Homo sapiens: one gene and its partners. The protein of the gene in region 1 purifies or fractionates together with the protein of each later gene. This does not show direct contact. Each region holds a gene or a part of one and is shown in the gene's direction. Other genes may lie near its edges. The genes, in order: GMIP, LRPAP1, ACAD8 and PPIL4.

The links.
Region 2: the proteins of GMIP (region 1) and LRPAP1 purify together in Homo sapiens (affinity purification with mass spectrometry; one large-scale study listed by BioGRID and IntAct). This does not show direct contact.
Region 3: the proteins of GMIP (region 1) and ACAD8 purify together in Homo sapiens (affinity purification with mass spectrometry; one large-scale study listed by BioGRID and IntAct). This does not show direct contact.
Region 4: the proteins of GMIP (region 1) and PPIL4 purify together in Homo sapiens (affinity purification with mass spectrometry, with the first as the bait; one large-scale study listed by BioGRID). This does not show direct contact.

The regions. Positions count from the first base shown.
Region 1 is NC_000019.10:19,636,674-19,641,084, reverse strand, and holds part of GMIP (GEM-interacting protein), read left to right. Parts: intron 1-513; coding exon 514-639; intron 640-724; coding exon 725-789; intron 790-892; coding exon 893-1,000; intron 1,001-2,602; coding exon 2,603-2,683; intron 2,684-2,755; coding exon 2,756-2,926; intron 2,927-3,027; coding exon 3,028-3,165; intron 3,166-3,523; coding exon 3,524-3,720; intron 3,721-4,055; coding exon 4,056-4,168; intron 4,169-4,288; coding exon 4,289-4,378; intron 4,379-4,411. UniProt on the Homo sapiens protein: Stimulates, in vitro and in vivo, the GTPase activity of RhoA.
Region 2 is NC_000004.12:3,514,852-3,519,262, reverse strand, and holds part of LRPAP1 (alpha-2-macroglobulin receptor-associated protein precursor), read left to right. Parts: intron 1-271; coding exon 272-392; intron 393-1,070; coding exon 1,071-1,229; intron 1,230-3,064; coding exon 3,065-3,147; intron 3,148-4,334; coding exon 4,335-4,411. UniProt on the Homo sapiens protein: Molecular chaperone for LDL receptor-related proteins that may regulate their ligand binding activity along the secretory pathway.
Region 3 is NC_000011.10:134,256,529-134,260,920, forward strand, and holds part of ACAD8 (isobutyryl-CoA dehydrogenase, mitochondrial), read left to right. Parts: intron 1-19; coding exon 20-120; intron 121-559; coding exon 560-729; intron 730-1,986; coding exon 1,987-2,096; intron 2,097-2,479; coding exon 2,480-2,556; intron 2,557-3,079; coding exon 3,080-3,217; intron 3,218-3,500; coding exon of another isoform or gene 3,501-3,545; exon of another isoform or gene 3,546-3,636; intron 3,637-4,392.
Region 4 is NC_000006.12:149,528,340-149,532,750, reverse strand, and holds part of PPIL4 (peptidyl-prolyl cis-trans isomerase-like 4), read left to right. Parts: intron 1-4,411. UniProt on the Homo sapiens protein: PPIases accelerate the folding of proteins. It catalyzes the cis-trans isomerization of proline imidic peptide bonds in oligopeptides.

The DNA.
Region 1 (4,411 bases):
AAAAACCCATCAAACACAGGCCGGGCACGGTGGCTCATGCCTGTAATCCCAGCACTTTGGGAGGCCGAGGCGGGCAGATCACCTGAGATTGGGAGTTCGAGACCAGCCTGACCAACATAGAGAAACCTCGTCTCTACTAAAAATACAAAAAATTAGCCGGGCATGGTGGCGCATGCCTGTAATCCCAGCTACTCAGGAGGCTGAGGCAGGAGAATCGCTTGAACCCGGGAGGCAGAGGTTTTGGTGAGCCAAAATCGCGCCATTGCACTCTAGCCTGGGCAACAAGAGCGAAACACAGTCTCAAAAATAAATAAATAAATAATAAAATAATAAAAAATAAAAAACAAAAAACAGTGAATCTGTAAAATTGCAACCAGGACAAGTGATCCCAAAGTAGTGTTTGGGGAGCTGTGAGGCTGTAGGACAGGTGCCACTGGGCTGGTCTGGGGGCTTAGGGAAGACATCCATAGCAGACTAGGGTGCAAAGGTCAGAGGTCCATCCATCTTCCCCAGGGGAGGAACTGGACTTGCGGCTCATTCGGACAAAGGGGGGTGTGGACGCAGCCCTGGAATATGCCAAGACCTGGAGCCGCTATGCCAAGGAACTGCTTGCCTGGACTGAAAAGAGAGCCAGCTATGGTGAGGACCTCTTCCGCCCAGCCCCAGTTACCAGGCAGTCCCCAGACCCCAGCTAGACCCAGAGCCCGGCTCTCTCTTCCCCCAGAGCTGGAGTTTGCTAAGAGCACCATGAAGATCGCTGAAGCTGGCAAGGTGTCCATTCAACAGCAGGTAGTCATGACCAGACCCCCCCGGAGAGCCCAAGCCCCCTAGAACCCCACCTTTGTCCCCCACAGATCTTCAGTATCCTCCTACACCACTCTGTCTTCCCCAGAGCCACATGCCTCTGCAGTACATCTACACCCTGTTTCTGGAGCACGATCTCAGCCTGGGAACCCTGGCCATGGAGACAGTGGCCCAGCAGAAAAGAGACTACTACCAGGTGAGGGGGGCAGGGTGGAATGTTACAGAGGTCACCCTGCTATCCTGCTGTCCTTCAGGCCTGATCCCCTCGTTTCCCAGCAAGCTGGGAGGAAGGCACCACTACCAACGTCGCCATTTCATTGATGAGGAAGCTGAGGCCCGGGGATGCTTGGGAACTTGCCCAAGGTTACCCAGCAAAGATTCAAGCTGGGCTTCCTGTGCAATTGCAAAACTTCACTTTACTTTTTTTCTTGAGACAGAATATCTTGCTCTTTTGCCCAGGCTGGGGTGCAATGGTGCGATCTCAGCTCACTGCAACCTCCGCTTCTTGGGTTCAAGCAATTCACTTGCCTCAGCCTCCTGAGTAGCTGGGATTACAGGCGCCTGCCACCACGCCCGGCTAATTTTTGTATTTTTAGTACAGATGGGGTTTCACCATGTTGGCCAGGCTGGTCTCCAACTCCTGACCTCAGGTAATCCACCTACCTCAGCTTCCCAAAGTGGTGGGATTACAGGCGTGAGCCACCACGCCCAGCCAAAAACTTCGTTTTTGTTTGTGGGGAGGGGAACGAGGTGCTGAGTGTTCTCAGGAGGAAAGCCTTGGTGTCTCTGCTTCCAAGCAGAAAGGATGGGGTGACTACATGAGACTTCTGGACTCAGGGGTCGGGGAGAGCAGGTCTGGAGAAGACCCCAGGAGGAGAATACTGACTCAGAAAAGGGTCCAGCCTGGCACGGTGGCTCATGCCTGTAATCCCAGCACTTCTGGGGGCCAAGGAGGGAGGATTGCTTGAGCCCAGGAGTTTGAGACCAACCTGGGCAACATAGTGAGACCCCCTGTCTCTACAAAAAAAAAAAAAAAGTTTTTTAATTAGCTGGGCCTGGTGCACATGTCTGCAGTGCTAGCTACTAGGAGGCTGAGGGTGGAGGATTGCTTGAGGCCAGGAGTTCGAGACTAACCTGGGCAACATAGTGAGATCCCTGTCTTTATCTACCAAAAAAAATTTATTTATTTATTTTTTTTTTTGAGACAGAGTCTCACTTTATCATCCAGGCTGGAGTGCAGTGGCATGATCTCAGCTCACTGCAACCTCTGCCTCCCGGGTTCAAGTGATTCTCCTGCCTCAGCCTCCCGAGTAGGTGGGACTATAGGAGTGTGCCATCACATCTTTATAATTTTTGTATTTTTGTAGAGACGGGGTTTCACCATGTTGGTCAGGCTGGTCTTGAACTCCTGGCCTCAGGTGATCTGCCCACTTTGGCCTCCCAAGTGCTGGGATTAAAGGCATGAGCCACTACACCTGGCCAACCAAAAAAAAAAAAAAAAAGAAGAAATTGTTTTTTAAATTAACTAGGCCTAGTGCACATGCCTGTAGTCCTAGCTACTGAGAGGCTGAGGCTGGAGGATTGCTTGAACTCAAGAGTTCAAGTTCAATGCTGCAGTGAGCCATGATTGCCCACTTGCACTCCAACCTGGGCAACAAGAGCAAAACTCCGTCTCGAAAAAAAAAAAAATAGAGTCCAGAGGTGGCAAAGCACATGGCGCAGGAATGGAAGGACTGGGTGGCTGCTTCTGGGTTGGCCCTAAGGCAGCGTCTCCATCCCCATCCCCAACCCTTGCCAGCCCCTCGCCGCCAAACGGACTGAGATTGAGAAGTGGCGGAAGGAGTTCAAGGAGCAGTGGATGAAGGAGCAGAAGCGGATGGTGAGGCTTGGAATTGGTGGAAGGGTAGGGTGAGAGAGAGGCCGGGACGCTGACCTTCTCATCATCCCCCAGAATGAGGCGGTGCAGGCACTGCGGCGCGCCCAGCTGCAGTATGTGCAACGCAGCGAGGACCTGCGGGCACGCTCCCAGGGGTCCCCTGAGGACTCGGCCCCCCAGGCCTCGCCGGGACCTAGCAAGCAGCAGGAGCGGCGGCGGCGCTCGCGAGAGGAGGCCCAGGCCAAGGTGGGCACCCGGCCCCGAGCCCCTGTAGCGCTGTGGCGCCCCCTGCCCTCCACTCTCGCCCACACGCGCCCCACCCCGCTCCTGGCCTCCCGTTTCCCCAGGCGCAGGAGGCCGAGGCGCTGTACCAGGCCTGTGTCCGCGAGGCCAACGCGCGGCAGCAGGACCTGGAGATCGCCAAGCAGCGAATCGTGTCGCACGTGCGCAAGCTGGTGTTTCAGGGGGATGAAGTGCTGAGGCGGGTGAGGCCCATCCCCAAGGCCATCCTCCCCTCACCCCGTTGGGGCCCCGACTGAGTGCCCCACTCCTCGCCCCTAAGCCACCCTGGAGACACCAGGACTAGGCCATTTCCCTCGACAGCCAGTTCCCGCCCCCAGACCCACTGTCTCGGCTCCGCCCCATGAGGTCCTGTCCCCTGGATGACCAGCCCCTGCTCTGACCATGCCTGGGTCCCCTGGCCGACTGCCCTAGTTCCTAAGCCGCCCAGGTGCGTCCCAAACCCTGACCACGTTCGCGTCTCTCAAGCCCCGCCCCAGCTCTGGCCCTGCCCCCAGGCTCCCAGGCTCCGCCCCTCCCCAACCTGCTGTCTCCACCCGGCAGGTGACGCTGAGTCTCTTCGGGCTGCGGGGGGCGCAGGCAGAGCGTGGCCCCCGCGCCTTCGCCGCCCTGGCCGAGTGCTGTGCGCCCTTTGAGCCGGGCCAGCGCTACCAGGAGTTTGTACGGGCGCTGCGGCCCGAGGCCCCGCCGCCCCCGCCGCCCGCCTTCTCCTTCCAGGAGTTCCTTCCCTCCTTGAACAGGTGGGTCACTGGAGCAGGGAGTCGGGAACGAGCCCCGGAATCGCGATGCCAGGCTGTTGGCACCGCAGGCTGGTTACTCGAGGTTAGAGAACGCAAAGCCTTAGTGGAATTTAGTACTCCAGGCTCTCGGGGGCCATAGGAGGGTGAATGGGTTGTCCCAGTCCTAGGGGCAGGGGCAGGAATGTGGGGCTACTGTATTTCAGGGGCCACAATGCCCTGGGTGTCAGGGTTTGCAGACCCAAGTGCTTGGAGTTGGTACCTAGACATGATGCCTGGGTGCCATCACCCCAGGCCAGTTTCCTGGGATTCAAACCTTCAAACTTCTGTCTTCTCAGCTCCCCTCTGGACATCAGAAAGAAGCTCTCTGGGCCTCTTCCTCCAAGGCTGGATGAGAATTCAGCTGAGCCAGGCCCTTGGGAGGATCCGGGCACAGGCTGGCGCTGGCAAGGTGAGTGCAATGAGGGCCAGGTGGGAGTGGTGCCAGGAGTTCGTTCCACCAACACATAGGTGGGCTGCAGGAGTGGGGTTTGTGAGCAGGGGACCATCCTTATTGACCTGTGCCACCTAGGGACTCCAGGCCCCACTCCGGGCAGCGATGTGGACAGCGTGGGTGGCGGCAGCGAGTCTCGGTCCCTGGACTCACCCACTTCCAGCCCAGGTAGGGATAGGACCTGGTCCTGACCCACACTCC
Region 2 (4,411 bases), on another chromosome or scaffold:
GTCCCCCTCCTTGGGATCTTCTGCTCCCCACCCCAGCCAGCTCGGTAGCTGTCCCCTGTTGAGCCTGGACACGTCCAAGAGAAGGGTGGTTGCCTGCCGGCAGCTCTTCTCCGGTTTGTTTTTTGTTTTCCTGCCCTTCGTGAGGCCAAGAACCTGGCCTGGCACTCACGTAGGCAAGGGCCTGCCTGGCCATGAGGAGTGGTTGGCTGAAGAGCGGCCCTGGCCACACGAGCCCGCGGCGGGTTCACTCCAGGCCTTGTTTCCCTCTTAGGCGAAGACCTCTGGGAAATTCTCCGGCGAAGAACTGGACAAGCTCTGGCGGGAGTTCCTGCATCACAAAGAGAAAGTTCACGAGTACAACGTCCTGCTGGAGACCCTGAGCAGGACCGAAGGTGCCCCCCGCCCCCACCCCCTCCTGCCCTCTGCCCCACCCCCTCCTGCCCCCCACCCCTCCTGCACCTGAGGCTCGTTGTGCTCAGTGGGCAGCCTCAGCTCCCCTCAGGAACACAGCAGGGGCAGGGAGGCGGCACCAGACGCCCTCCCAGGGTTCCACCGGACTTGTGAGTGGGGAGGTTGCTGTGCAGGCAGGCTCTGGGAGTCGCCTGCCTGCATTGGATGAACCAAGTCTCACCGGCGCCTGCCCCCACTATGGGCACAGCTGCTGCCTTTGTCAGACCTGAGCTTCGCTGATGGGTCCTTCATTCTGGACTCGTGACCCTCCCCAAATGTGTGACTTTCCCACCCCACAAAGCTGGAGTAAAATGGAGGGTGACCCAGCAGAGAGGGGGCAGGGCAGGGGTCCAGAGTCAGCCCCCAGGGGACCTGGTGCCCCAGCTGTCACCGCCAGGCGCCACTTGGTGCGCGTGTCCCGGCGTCTCGCCTGTCTCGCCTGGAAAGGAAGCTGTGCCAACGGTCGTTTCTGCGGCGCTGCAGGACCGCGGAAGGGGGACATTTTCAGCCCAGAAATGAGAGCGAGTTTGAGCTCCCCAGCAGTGGGCGTTCTAGACAGTGGTCTGGGCAGGCAGTGCGAGGACTCCCAGCCTCATGGCGTCCTGCCTTCGGTTTTACAGAAATCCACGAGAACGTCATTAGCCCCTCGGACCTGAGCGACATCAAGGGCAGCGTCCTGCACAGCAGGCACACGGAGCTGAAGGAGAAGCTGCGCAGCATCAACCAGGGCCTGGACCGCCTGCGCAGGGTCAGCCACCAGGGCTACAGCACTGAGGCTGGTGAGTGCCCGCCCGGGACTGTTGGTTCCCGAGGGTGGGGCCGTCTCTGGTTGTGTTTTGGGGACAAGCAGGCAGGTGCTTGTAGCGACGGGAACCTGGGCCTGTGGACGCAGCGGAGACCCTCGGCGCGCTCAGTCTACCCACGGGTGGTCACAGGCCTCGCTCCCAGGAGCTGCTCCGTGAAGGTCACTCGCCGTCCCCAGCCTTGTACCTGGAGACTAGCAGAGGGCAGTGGCGGCAGCGGGCCTGGGAGCAGCCCTTCCCAGCGTCTCCCCAGCCTCAGCAGCACGGCCCCTCCCGTGCTGCTGTTGGCCAAGAACAGAGACCACTCGTCAAACATAGCTCCGTCTCCATCTCATGCCACCCACACCGTCCATCAGTCCCCCTCAGCCCGGCAGGGGCAGGACGCCCGCTGAGGCCACAGAGCTTGTGGCTCCGTCTCAGCAGCTCATCTCCCTCCACTGCAGGCCCTCAGTGGCCAGGCTCTGCACCACTGCTTCTTGCCCCGTACCCGGGCCAGAGCCTTGTGCAGGGTGTACCAGAAGCCTGCTGGCCTCACTCACGCAGCTTCCGATTCTGTACCTCATCCTCCACGTGCACACTGAGCACCAGCTGCACGCCAGGCACTGCTCTAGGCTCGAGGAGACAGCAGCCGCCAGGAGATGGCATCTGTGCCCTCATGGTGATAAGACAGCAGGGCTGGTCTCTGTCCCCGGTGCCAGGCAGAGCCACCGCCTCGTCTCCAGGATGGTCTGCCCAGAGGCAGCCTCCAGCACAGCAGTCAAATGTGTCCACGCGGGCCCAGGTCCCCTTGGGTGGCTGTGCTGCTGTCACCTGAGTGCCCTTGGGCAAGACCCCTCACCACCCACCCCCAAACCCAGGCTCCCTTAGCCTGACCTGGTGCTGGTGACTGTCAGCCGTAGGCTTTTGGCCGTAGTGCTGGGGGCTGGACCACCTTGTAGGCCTGCGATGCAGTTTGCTGAGTTCCTGTGCTGGAGAGACCCGGATGAGCCTGGCTATAGTCCATGCAGGAAAGGGCGACTCAGCCCCACACACTTCTCTTCCCACCTCGGGCTGTCCCCAAGGCAGTTGTGTCCAGCGGCTCCTGCAGTTCTCTTGCGGGTCTGCCTGGGCCTTCCAGCAAGCCCCACCAGCCCAGGGTCCTCGGGGTCCTGAGCAGGAAGGGGTCAGCAGAGGAGGGAGCAGGGGCCACTGTTGCGGGGCTCCATGGGCAGGCGGCTCTGGACTACTCACTCCTGGTTGGAGAGTGGTGACAGCCCCGGAGTCTCTCACTGCGTCCCTTCGTGAGCACCAGGGTCCAGGAGCCGTCTTGGTTTGTTTGGCTCCTCCCAGGAGCCCGAATGTTTGACTTTCACGAGCACAACATCCTGCTGGAGACCCTGAGCAGGACCGAAGGGAAACGGCCTGTGCCTGCGTCTGGACCTGGCTGAACTTGCAGGTGCCCCCACCCGAGGTCCTGGCAGCCTCTGCACACAGGCCACGTCCATCCTCTGCCTCCTGCTTCAGAGGCAGCCAGGGCGGGCTGTGGCGCTTCCCAGGCTCTGATGGAGGCAGGTGTTTCTGGACACAAAGGAGAAGCAGTTGTTTGGCCAAGGGGACAGAGAAGCCACATTTCAGCGAGGTCATGTGAGCTACTGAGCAGATGCCCTCTGTGCCCCATAAGACTTTGAGTGCACGCACCCGTGTTTCACACACATGCAGGTCGCGCCTGCAAACCCTCATAGGCTCCACGCACACTCAGCGTGGTTGCCGCGGGGCTGGCTGTGGTGTGCACCCCGGGTGCTGCTGAGGCCACTCTTGCTCCTCCCCTGCAGAGTTCGAGGAGCCCAGGGTGATTGACCTGTGGGACCTGGCGCAGTCCGCCAACCTCACGGACAAGGAGCTGGAGGCGTTCCGGGTAAGGAAACACGGCCCTCTCCTTCTAGCTCTCTCCTGTGGTGAAGATTCTCTTGCAGTTTCCGGGTAAGGAAATGCAGCCCTCTCCTCCAAGCTCTCTCTCTCAAGATTCTCGCAGTTTCTTCCTTAACCACTCGGTGAACCTGCTTGCGTTTTCCTTCTCATCTGCGTGGGAACTCGTGTTTCAGGGGCGGGGCCAGGCTCTGGAGGGAGGGGCTTTGGTTCTTTTGTCCGTGTTCACGTCTGAGCGTGGCCTTGGTGCGGGTCCTGTGGATGGTCAACAGTTGGTCGGGACCCAGCCACAGCCTGGGGGGAGGGGACCAAGGACACTACCGGGATCGTTTAGGGGTGTCACCACTTCCTGAGATGGAGGCCCAGGGAGGGAAGGAGACCACCTCAGGTGGCAGGGGCTCCTGGGGCGTGTGGAGTGCCAGATCATTCTGAGGGTGGAGAATTCATCAGCTCGGTGAGCACCCAGCAGGGCTGTGAGGAGTGGGGAGTCCATCGGGGGTCCTGGGTGGGCAGCCTTGAGTATGGTATCCGGCCATGAGTTCACCCAGGGTCCCTATAGCTGGTGTCTGTTGGGAGGGAGGTGGGTGTGGTCCTGCCCTCATAGGACTTGGGACTTTCCTGGCCCCAGGAAGGGCCCTTAGCACCTCCCCCAGAAAGGGGTCAGGAGCTTCCCTCTGGGGCTGGGGCACCTTAGCTGGCCGCAGGCACGTGCATGGGGCTTGGCAGGTGGGGCCACATGGAGGGCCCTGGGTCTGGAGCGTGGGGTCAAGGCAGGGCAGGGCACCTACAGGAGCAGGGACAGAGCTGCAGTCCAGCAGCAGTGGAGCCCAGGCAGGCTGGGGGCAGGGTGCAGAGGCAGCCACCACAGAAGCACAGCCCCTGGACATGGGGTCTGGCTGGGAACGAGCTGGAGGCCCCCTAGATTCGGGGGGCGGGGGTGCCATTTGCAGAGACAGGGAAGGGGTCGGCTTAGGGCTGCCAAGGAGGCGCGGGCTGGGACCCGTTGCTAGTGTGATGGCCTCCCAGCTGCCGCCCCCTCATTGCCCATGTCACCGCAAGGCCTGTCCTGCCCCGGGTATGGCGCCGTCCTTTGGCGTCCTTGCAGTTCACCCGGGACCACAAGATGGCGTGGCGAGCACGGGAAGGGAACACTCACCTATGGAAACCTTGTTCCAGGAGGAGCTCAAGCACTTCGAAGCCAAAATCGAGAAGCACAACCACTACCAGAAGCAGCTGGAGATTGCGCACGAGAA
Region 3 (4,392 bases), on another chromosome or scaffold:
TATGCAATCCTGCCCACAGCTTCCATGGGACTTAATGAAGAGCAGAAAGAATTTCAAAAAGTGGCCTTTGACTTTGCTGCCCGAGAGATGGCTCCAAATATGGCAGAGTGGGACCAGAAGGTAGGCGTTTTTCTTGTGCTTAGACGTTCTAACAACAGATGTCTCAGGCAGACCTTTATCTTTGTCTCCTGATAATGTAATTGTTAAATGTCTCCTCCACTTACCAACTCTTACTGCAAGTGAGAATACCGGTAGTGGATGATTTTTCCTAGAAGGCATCCTGATCATCTTGTACATAACTTTTTTTTTGTTAGTTGAATAAAGATTTGGATATAAAACTAAGGCAGTTCTATAGATAATAAAAAGAAACTTCTTAATGCCAGAACAAGTTTTTACAGGACCCATGTTAACTGATAACCACTGTAAGATGACAAACAGGCATATTAAGAGAATTCATACGCTGTCGCATGTGCAAGCCTCCTAATCCCTCACTGTGCCCTCTAAAAGGAAGGCCGTCTCTGAATCAGCTGCTGATCACCCTGCTCTCTTTTGTACATAGGAGCTGTTCCCAGTGGATGTGATGCGGAAGGCAGCCCAGCTAGGCTTCGGAGGGGTCTACATACAAACAGATGTGGGCGGGTCTGGGCTGTCACGTCTTGATACCTCTGTCATTTTTGAAGCCTTGGCTACAGGCTGCACCAGCACCACAGCCTATATAAGCATCCACAAGTGAGTGCCCAAGCTTGGAAGGCACAATGAAGTGCTCACTCGGGCTGACTGTGAGAGTTCAGATTCGTAGGAAAAAGATTGATCTTTTGAAGCTGAGTGTCCTCAAGGAACTGGACTTAAAAGTACACTCTAGGGGCCGGGCGCAGTGGCTCGTGCCTGTAATCCCAGCACTTTGGGAGGCCAAGGCAGGCAGATCACGAGGTCAGGAGTTTGAGACCAGCCTGGCCAACGTGGTGAAACCCCGTCCCTGCTAAAAATACAAAAAATTAGCCGGGTGTGGTGGCTGGCGCCTGTAGTCCCAGCTACTCGGGAGGCTGAGGCAGGAGGATGGTGTGAACCCGGGAGGCGGAGCTTGCAGTGAGCCGAGATGGACCACTGCACTCCAGCCTGGGCGACAGAGCGAGACTCCATCTCAAAAAAAATAAATAAATAAAATAAGTACACGCTAGGTCTGTTGCTGCCTGTTGGACTTGATTCTGTCATCCTGTGTATTGCTTAGGGAATCAGGTCAGCCAGCTTTCTCAGAAATCTTATTTTGAGCTGGTACCAGGAGACTTCTCCAATAGAGTGATCAGGGTCCTCTCACCCTTTTATTTATTTATTTATTTTTAAGACAGAGTCTCGCTCTGTTGCCCAGGCTAGGGTGCAGTGGCATGACCTCGGCTCACTGCAACCTCCGTCTCCCCGGTTCAAGTGATTCTCCTGCCTCAGCCTCCTGAGTAGCTGGGATTACAGGCACGTGCCACCACACCTGGCTAATTTTTTTTCATATTTAGTAGAGATGGGGTTTCACCATGTTAGTCAGGCTGGTCTCAAACTCCTGACCTTGTGTTCTGCCTGCCTCGGCCTCCCATAGTGCTGGGATTACAGATGTGAGCCACCGCACCCGGCCCCTCTCACCCTTTTCCTCAATCCAAAGATGGAACTGCCAGTGATTTGAGGAAGTAATAGAAACTACTAATAGAAAGCACATATAACTCTGATTTTTAGAGGCTCGTGTAACCTAACTAGAAGTAGTACAAACGTGCTGGTGAGAAGTACCTCAGCCTGGTTATCTCTGGGTAGTCCTTATTCCAGGAATATGTTTTAATCCACCGTTTGCCTTTAAAGAGTCTTCCCAATTGTGACTCTCCCCTTCCCACTCTTCTGCTTTACTCCACTGCCCTGCCCTTTGTTCTCTTTCCCCTTCTCCCCCATTTTTTTTTCTTTTCCATCTTTATTTCTGTCATTGTCTTTTCTTCTTGGTGTACCTATCAGCATGTGTGCCTGGATGATTGATAGCTTCGGAAATGAGGAACAGAGGCACAAATTTTGCCCACCGCTCTGTACCATGGAGAAGTTTGCTTCCTACTGCCTCACTGAACCAGGTGAATTTGCCACACTGCACTGAGATATAGCAGGGAGAGATGCTTCCTGCTCAGATGGCATTACCGAGCACTCCTTCCAGCCTCTTGACATGTCGAGCCACTGTTTATCTAGCTGTTTGGTTGAGGAGTAATAGAGTCCTGTGACCTGATGTCACAAGGACCAAGAAGCCTATCTGGTGTGTTGGGAGGTAGGCAGTGGCCTGACTGGTATGAGCAGTTTCCACCAAGTACAGAGAGTTCCTTTGGCCACTTGGGTTTTGCAGTGACACACTCTGAGCAGGGTCTGTTTAGAGAAGATTTCCTAGAAGATAGAATTGTGCTGGGCTCCCTCGACCTCACTGACTTTCTCACCTTCTCTCTGCTGCCTTTTGATCCCTCCTCAGGAAGTGGGAGTGATGCTGCCTCTCTTCTGACCTCCGCTAAGAAACAGGGAGATCATTACATCCTCAATGGCTCCAAGGTACTAGCGTGCGTCCTCCCAGAGCACTTTGGAGATTGTTCCCAGCTTCCTCCTGACATCCTCTGGTTCCTTCACATCCGCGGGTTAATACTCCCATAGGATTTTTATGTGTTGGGAAGAGAACCTCTGACCCATTTCTCTTTCTTTATTCTCACTGTTTGTATCTCTCCTAATCTGATTCCAGATCATTTCGTTGACTTTTGTCTATCCTTTTTATACTCTCTTGGACTGCCTCTCTGATCTGCAGTCACTGCAGCGACCTTTTACCTCACCTCAGTCTCTGTGCCATTGGACCTTATTGTCAGTCTCTGTGCCATTGGACCTTATTGTCAGTCTCTGTGCCATTGGACCTTATTGTCAGTCTCTGTGCCATTGGACCTTATTGTCAGTCTCTGTGCCATTGGACCTTATTGTCAGTCTCTGTGCCATTGGACCTTATTGTCAGGAGGACCCAGTGGTGTTCCCAGACGCTGTGAGAACTCAAGCATTCCCTGGTCCTTTTGCACCCCTTTTACCCCCACAGGCCTTCATCAGTGGTGCTGGTGAGTCAGACATCTATGTGGTCATGTGCCGAACAGGAGGACCAGGCCCCAAGGGCATCTCATGCATAGTTGTTGAGAAGGGGACCCCTGGCCTCAGCTTTGGCAAGAAGGAGAAAAAGGTGAGTGGCTGTTGGACAGGAAACAATTCAGGTTATGAGACTCTGCCACCTGCCAGCCCAACTCCTGCTCTATTTCAGAAAACAGGTTTGCATACTTGCTAACCTACCTTTGAAGCAGTTGCTTCTATTAGGATTTTCAACAGGAGCATATGAAATACAACAGGGCATTATTAAACACTAGGCCTCTGGGGAAAGTGACAATGTTTGCCAGTAAATTCTTCAAGCCACCTGTGAGTGTTCTGACCTCTCCTGCCTCTGCTTTTGGCCTGTGTTCCTTATCCAGCTGCTTACGTTGGTGCACTTTGTTGCTCCAGGAAGAGACGCTTAGAGAAGACCTGGTGTTGGCCACAAGTCTCAGTAATGGAAGGCGTGTGGTCCCTTTTGCTTCTTTGATTAAAAATAAAGTAAAACTCATTGGAGATGATTGTGGGTATTTCAGCAACCCAAGAAGGACACTTAGGTACTGTAAGTAATTTGAAAAGTAAGATACTTCTAGGATTAAGAGCCGCCATGGCCAGGGCATGAACAGGAGACTTGTGATCATGTAACCGTAATTGGTAATAAGGGCTCAAGACCCATTCAGATTTTTTAGACCAGATGCTCAAAGCAGTCATCTCTCTCTAGTTTGTACTGTTATGGGGGGACTTTGTGAGAGAAGGCAGGTAATGAAATGACCCCTAAGTGTACCTCTTTCTCACAGCTCCTCGGGTTTCTGTATTTTCCTACAGGATCCTTCCTGATCCTCTGTAACTGTAAGGCATTATGCATTTTAGCATCCCCTTCTCTTTGGTAACACAGCAACCATTTCCTAGGCTTCTACTGTGTGTGAAGCCCATGCTAACTCCTGGGCAGGAAGACCTTCAGTAAAAGGCTTAGAAATGGAGTTTATCCTATCAACAAAAGAGAGCAAGGAAATGATGTAAAGGCAGTCTATTTTCAGAGCCAGAGAGGAACTGGGAGATTGTAGATAGTTTGTGGTTTTCAATTAGAGGCACTGAAATTGGGGGCAGTTGGTGTCACAATCCTAAAAGAAGTTGTGAGAAGTGTTTGTAGGTTAGTCAGGTAGAGTAGACATTAGTAGATTCTCTTAATAAGTTAGAAAATGTTTAGCTGAAACAGGTATCTTTCTGAGTGCTGACAGGCCTTTAAACCTGAACTTTTTCTTTTTCCTCATT
Region 4 (4,411 bases), on another chromosome or scaffold:
CTTCCAACTCCTCAGCTTAAGCAATGCCCTTGCCTCAGCCTCCTGAGTTGCTGAGACCACAGTCACACACCACAATGCCCTGCTAATTTTAAAATTTTTTTTGTAGAGACAGGATCTCCCTATGTTGGCCAGGCTTAAGTTTATATTACCATCAACTGTCTGAATGAACAAATAGTAAAGGCTGTATAGTTCAAGAAAGCTTTACTGAAATTAAAAAAATTAATTGAAAATACACATTTTAATGAGCACACTGTGTATCTCAGAGTATTGACTCTGAACACCCAACACCAAGACAAATTCTAAGAGAATTACTACACTTGAAAGATATGTTGAACAATTGGGCAGAAAGAATAAGTTACTTATAAGGGAATGAATTTAGATTGTTATCAGACTTTTCCACAGCAACACTTTGGAAGTTTATGCCAGAAGAAAATAGATTAACATACTTTTTAAAACTTTTTGTTTTCAGATAATTTCAAATTTATGGGAAAAAGTACATAGAACTTCTATATACCTTTTACCCACATTCACCAATTTTTAACATTTTGCTACATCTGTTTTATGATTCTCTCTTTTTCTCTCTCTCTGATTATACAAGCACATAAACACACATTTTTTTTCTCGACTATTTGACAGTAAGTTGCCTGTTATTTCCCTTTACCTCTTAATCAGTGTGTATTTCCTAAGAGCAGCAGTATTCAATGTGTATAACAATATGTACGTATTCACAGTGTAGTTACCAAAATCAGAAAATTTAGAAGTGACAGAAATTACAGTTTATAGGGCCGGGCACAGTGGCTCACGCCTGTAATCCCAGCACTTTGGGAGGCCGAGGCGGGTGGATCACGAGGTCAGGAGTTCGAGACCAGCCTGGCCAACATGGTGAAACTCCGTCTCTACTAAAAATACAAAAATTAGCTGGGTATAGAGGCATGCGGCTGTAATCCTAGATACTCAGGAGGCTGAGGCAGGAGAATCGCTTGAACCCAGCAGGCGAAAGTTGCTGTGAGCCGAGATCGCGCCATTGCACTCCGGCCTGGGCAACAGGGCGAGACTCCGTCTCAAAAAAAAGAAAAAAGAAATTACAGTTTATATTCCAATTTTGCCAGTTGTTCTAATAATATCTTTTATAATTGTTTCCTCCTCCAGACTAGAATCCAGCTCGTGACTTATCATCTGTTGCATTTATTTTGTAGAATATTTTCCTTTTTTTTTTTTTGAGACGGAGTTTCTGTTGCCCAGGTTGAAGTGCAATGGCATGATCTCGGCTCACTGCAACCTCCACCTCCCAGGTTCAAGCGATTCAGCTGCCTCAGCTTCCCAAATAGCTGGGATTATAGGTGCCTGCCACCCACGCCTGGCTAATTTTTTTTTTTTTTTTTTTTTTGAGACAGAATCTCGCTCTGTTATCAGGCTGGAGTGCAATGGCACGATCTTGGCTCACTGCAACCTCTGCCTCCCGGGTTCAAGCGATTCTTCTGCCTCAGGCTCCCGAGTAGCTGGGATTACAGGCGCCTGCCACCACATCCAGCTAATTTTTTGTAATTGTAGTAGAGACAGGGTTTCACTGTGTTGCCCAGGCTGGTCTCCAACTCCCGACCTCAGGCGATCCTCCTGCCTTGGCCTCCCAAAGTGCTGGGATTACAGGCATGAGCCACCGTGCCCGGCCAATAGAATATTTTTCAATTTAGGTTTATCTACTCTTTCCTCATGATTAGATTCAGGTTATGCACCCACAGCCGAAATAGTACGTGAGTGATGTTGTGTCCTCAGAGGTCACATCTGGAGGTGTACGATATTCATTGGAAGATGAGTAATTTTGGTCACTTGGTCATGGTAGTCCACTGCCTGGTGTCTCCAATAGACAATCTGTGGCTAGACACTTGGAGATCTTTCAAATGTCTTGTTCCTTGTCAAATTTCCCCCATAAATTTCTCAGCCATTCATGATTCCTGACTGCACCAGTTTTGACTCTGCTAAGTGCAAAGTGGTAATTATGCAAAGTGGTAATTTCCCACCCCCACCACTTTTTCCACAATTACCAACCTGCATTCTACTGTAAGGAAGAGCCCTCCCTTCTTTTTTTTTTTCCGAGATGGAGTCTCGCTCTGTCACCCAGGCTGGAGAGCAATGGCGCAATCTTGGCTCACTGCAACCTCTGCCTCCCAGGTTTAAGCGATTCTCCTGCCTCAGCCTCCTGGGTAGCAGGGATTATAGGTGCCCGCCACCACGCCCAGCTAATTTTTGTATTTTTAGTAGAGACAGGGTTTCACCATGTTGGTCAGGCTTGTCTCAAACTCCTGACCTGGTGATCTGCCTGCCTCGGCCTCCCAAAGTGCTGGGATTACAGGTGTGAGCCACTGTGCCCGCCTGAGCCCTCCCTTCTTAACTGCTTATCTATCCGTTCATTATCCGTGTCTCATGGATTCTTTTTTTGGCTTTGTTTTTAATAGACAATTTGTAGAGCAATTTTAGAATTACAGAAAAACTGAACATAAAGTACAGAGAGTTTCTAAGTACTCCCTCCCTCTTTCCCCCAGTCTTGCATTATTGTGACACATTTGTTAACAATTGATGAGCCAATATTGATACATTATTAATTAAAATCCATGATTTACGTTAGAATTCAAGCTTTGTGTTGTACATTCGGTGGAACTGACAAATGTACGATAGCATATATCTACCCTTACAGGATCATTCAAGGTAGTTTCACTGTCTAAAAAATCCCCTGGGCTCCACCTGTTCATCCCCACCCCCAACACCCACTTCTTGGCAACTACTGATGTTTTTACTGTCTATATAGTTTTGGCATTTTCAAAATGTCATATAGTTGGAATTATAGCGTATGTAGCCTTTTCAGACTGTCTTCTTTCACTTAGCAATATACATTTAAGGTTCCACTGTGCCTTTTTTCTTTCTTCCCTTTCCCTTTCTCCTTTCCCTTTTTCTTTTTCTTTCTTTTCTTTCCCTCCTTTTTTTTTTTTTTTTGAGACGGAGTCTCGCTCTTGTCGTCAGGCTAGAGTACAGTGGCATTATCTCGGCTCACTGCAACCTCTGCCTCCCAGGTTCAAGAGATTCTCCTGCCTCAGCCTCCTGAGTAGCTGGGACTACAGGCACGTGCCACCGCGCCCGGCTAATTATTTTGTATTTTTAGTAGAGACGAGGTTTCACCGTGTTAGCCAGGATGGTCTTGATCTCTTGACCTCGTGATCTGCGCGCCTCAGCCTCCCAAAGTGCTGGGATTACAGCATGAGTCACCCTGCCCGGCCCTTTTTTTAATTTTTTTTAATTTTTTTTTATTTGAGACAGGTTCTCGCTCTGTTGCATGGACAGTGGCACAATAATGGCTCACTGCACCCCGACCTCCAGGGCTCAAGTAATCCTCCTACCTCAGCCTCACAAGTAGCTGGGACCACAGGCGTGTGCCACCATGCCCGGCTAATTTTATTTTTTGTAGAGACAGAGTCTCACTATGTTGCCCGGCCTGGGATTTCATTTCTTTCTTTTTTTTGTTTTTTTTTTTTAGAGAAAGTCTCACTCTTTCACTCAGGCTGGAGTGCAGTGGTGCTGTCATAGCTCACTATAACCTTGAACTGAGGTTGAGCAGTCTTCCTGCCTCAGCCTCTTGAGTAGCTGGGACTATAGGCACACGCCACCACACCTTGGTAATTTTTAAATTTTTTTGTAGAGATGGAGTCTTACCCATGTTGCTCAGGCTGATCCCAAACTCCCAGGTTCAAGTGATCTTCCTGTCTTGGCCTCCCAAAGTGTTGGGATTACAGGCGTGAGCCACCATGCATGGCTGATAGCTCATTTCTTTTAATTGCTAAGTAATGTTTCATTGTATGGATGTATCACAGCTTGTATATTTTTTACCTGTTGAAAGATACCTTGGTTGCTTCCAAGTTTTGGCAGTTGTGATTAAAGCTGCTGTAAACATTTGCATGCAGATTTTTGTGTAGGCATAAAGTTTCTATGCATTTGGGTAAATACCTAGGAGTTCAGATGCTGGATTGAATGGTTTAGCTTTGTAAGAAACTGCCAAACTGTCTTCTAAAGTGGCTTTACATTTTACATTCCTACCAGCAATGAATGAGGGTTTCTTTTGCCTCACATCCTTGCCAGCATTTGCTGATGGTATTTTTTGGATTTTAGTCACTCTAAAAGGTGATCCTGTGTCCTTTTGATTTTATTAACATATTCCATGTTCTGTTTTCTAAGAATATCTGTTTCTCTTACTTTATTGCATTTGTTTGTAATATAGTGATAATTCAGCTAGTGTTTTGTAAAATTAGTTTTGAACCTCATAGCTTTTATGAATGTTTTAAATTTCCTAATAGTATTTTAAAGTTAGCTTTGACCAAGTACTATAGCAAGTTCTTTTTTGACTCATTAACTTTTTTTCTCGTTT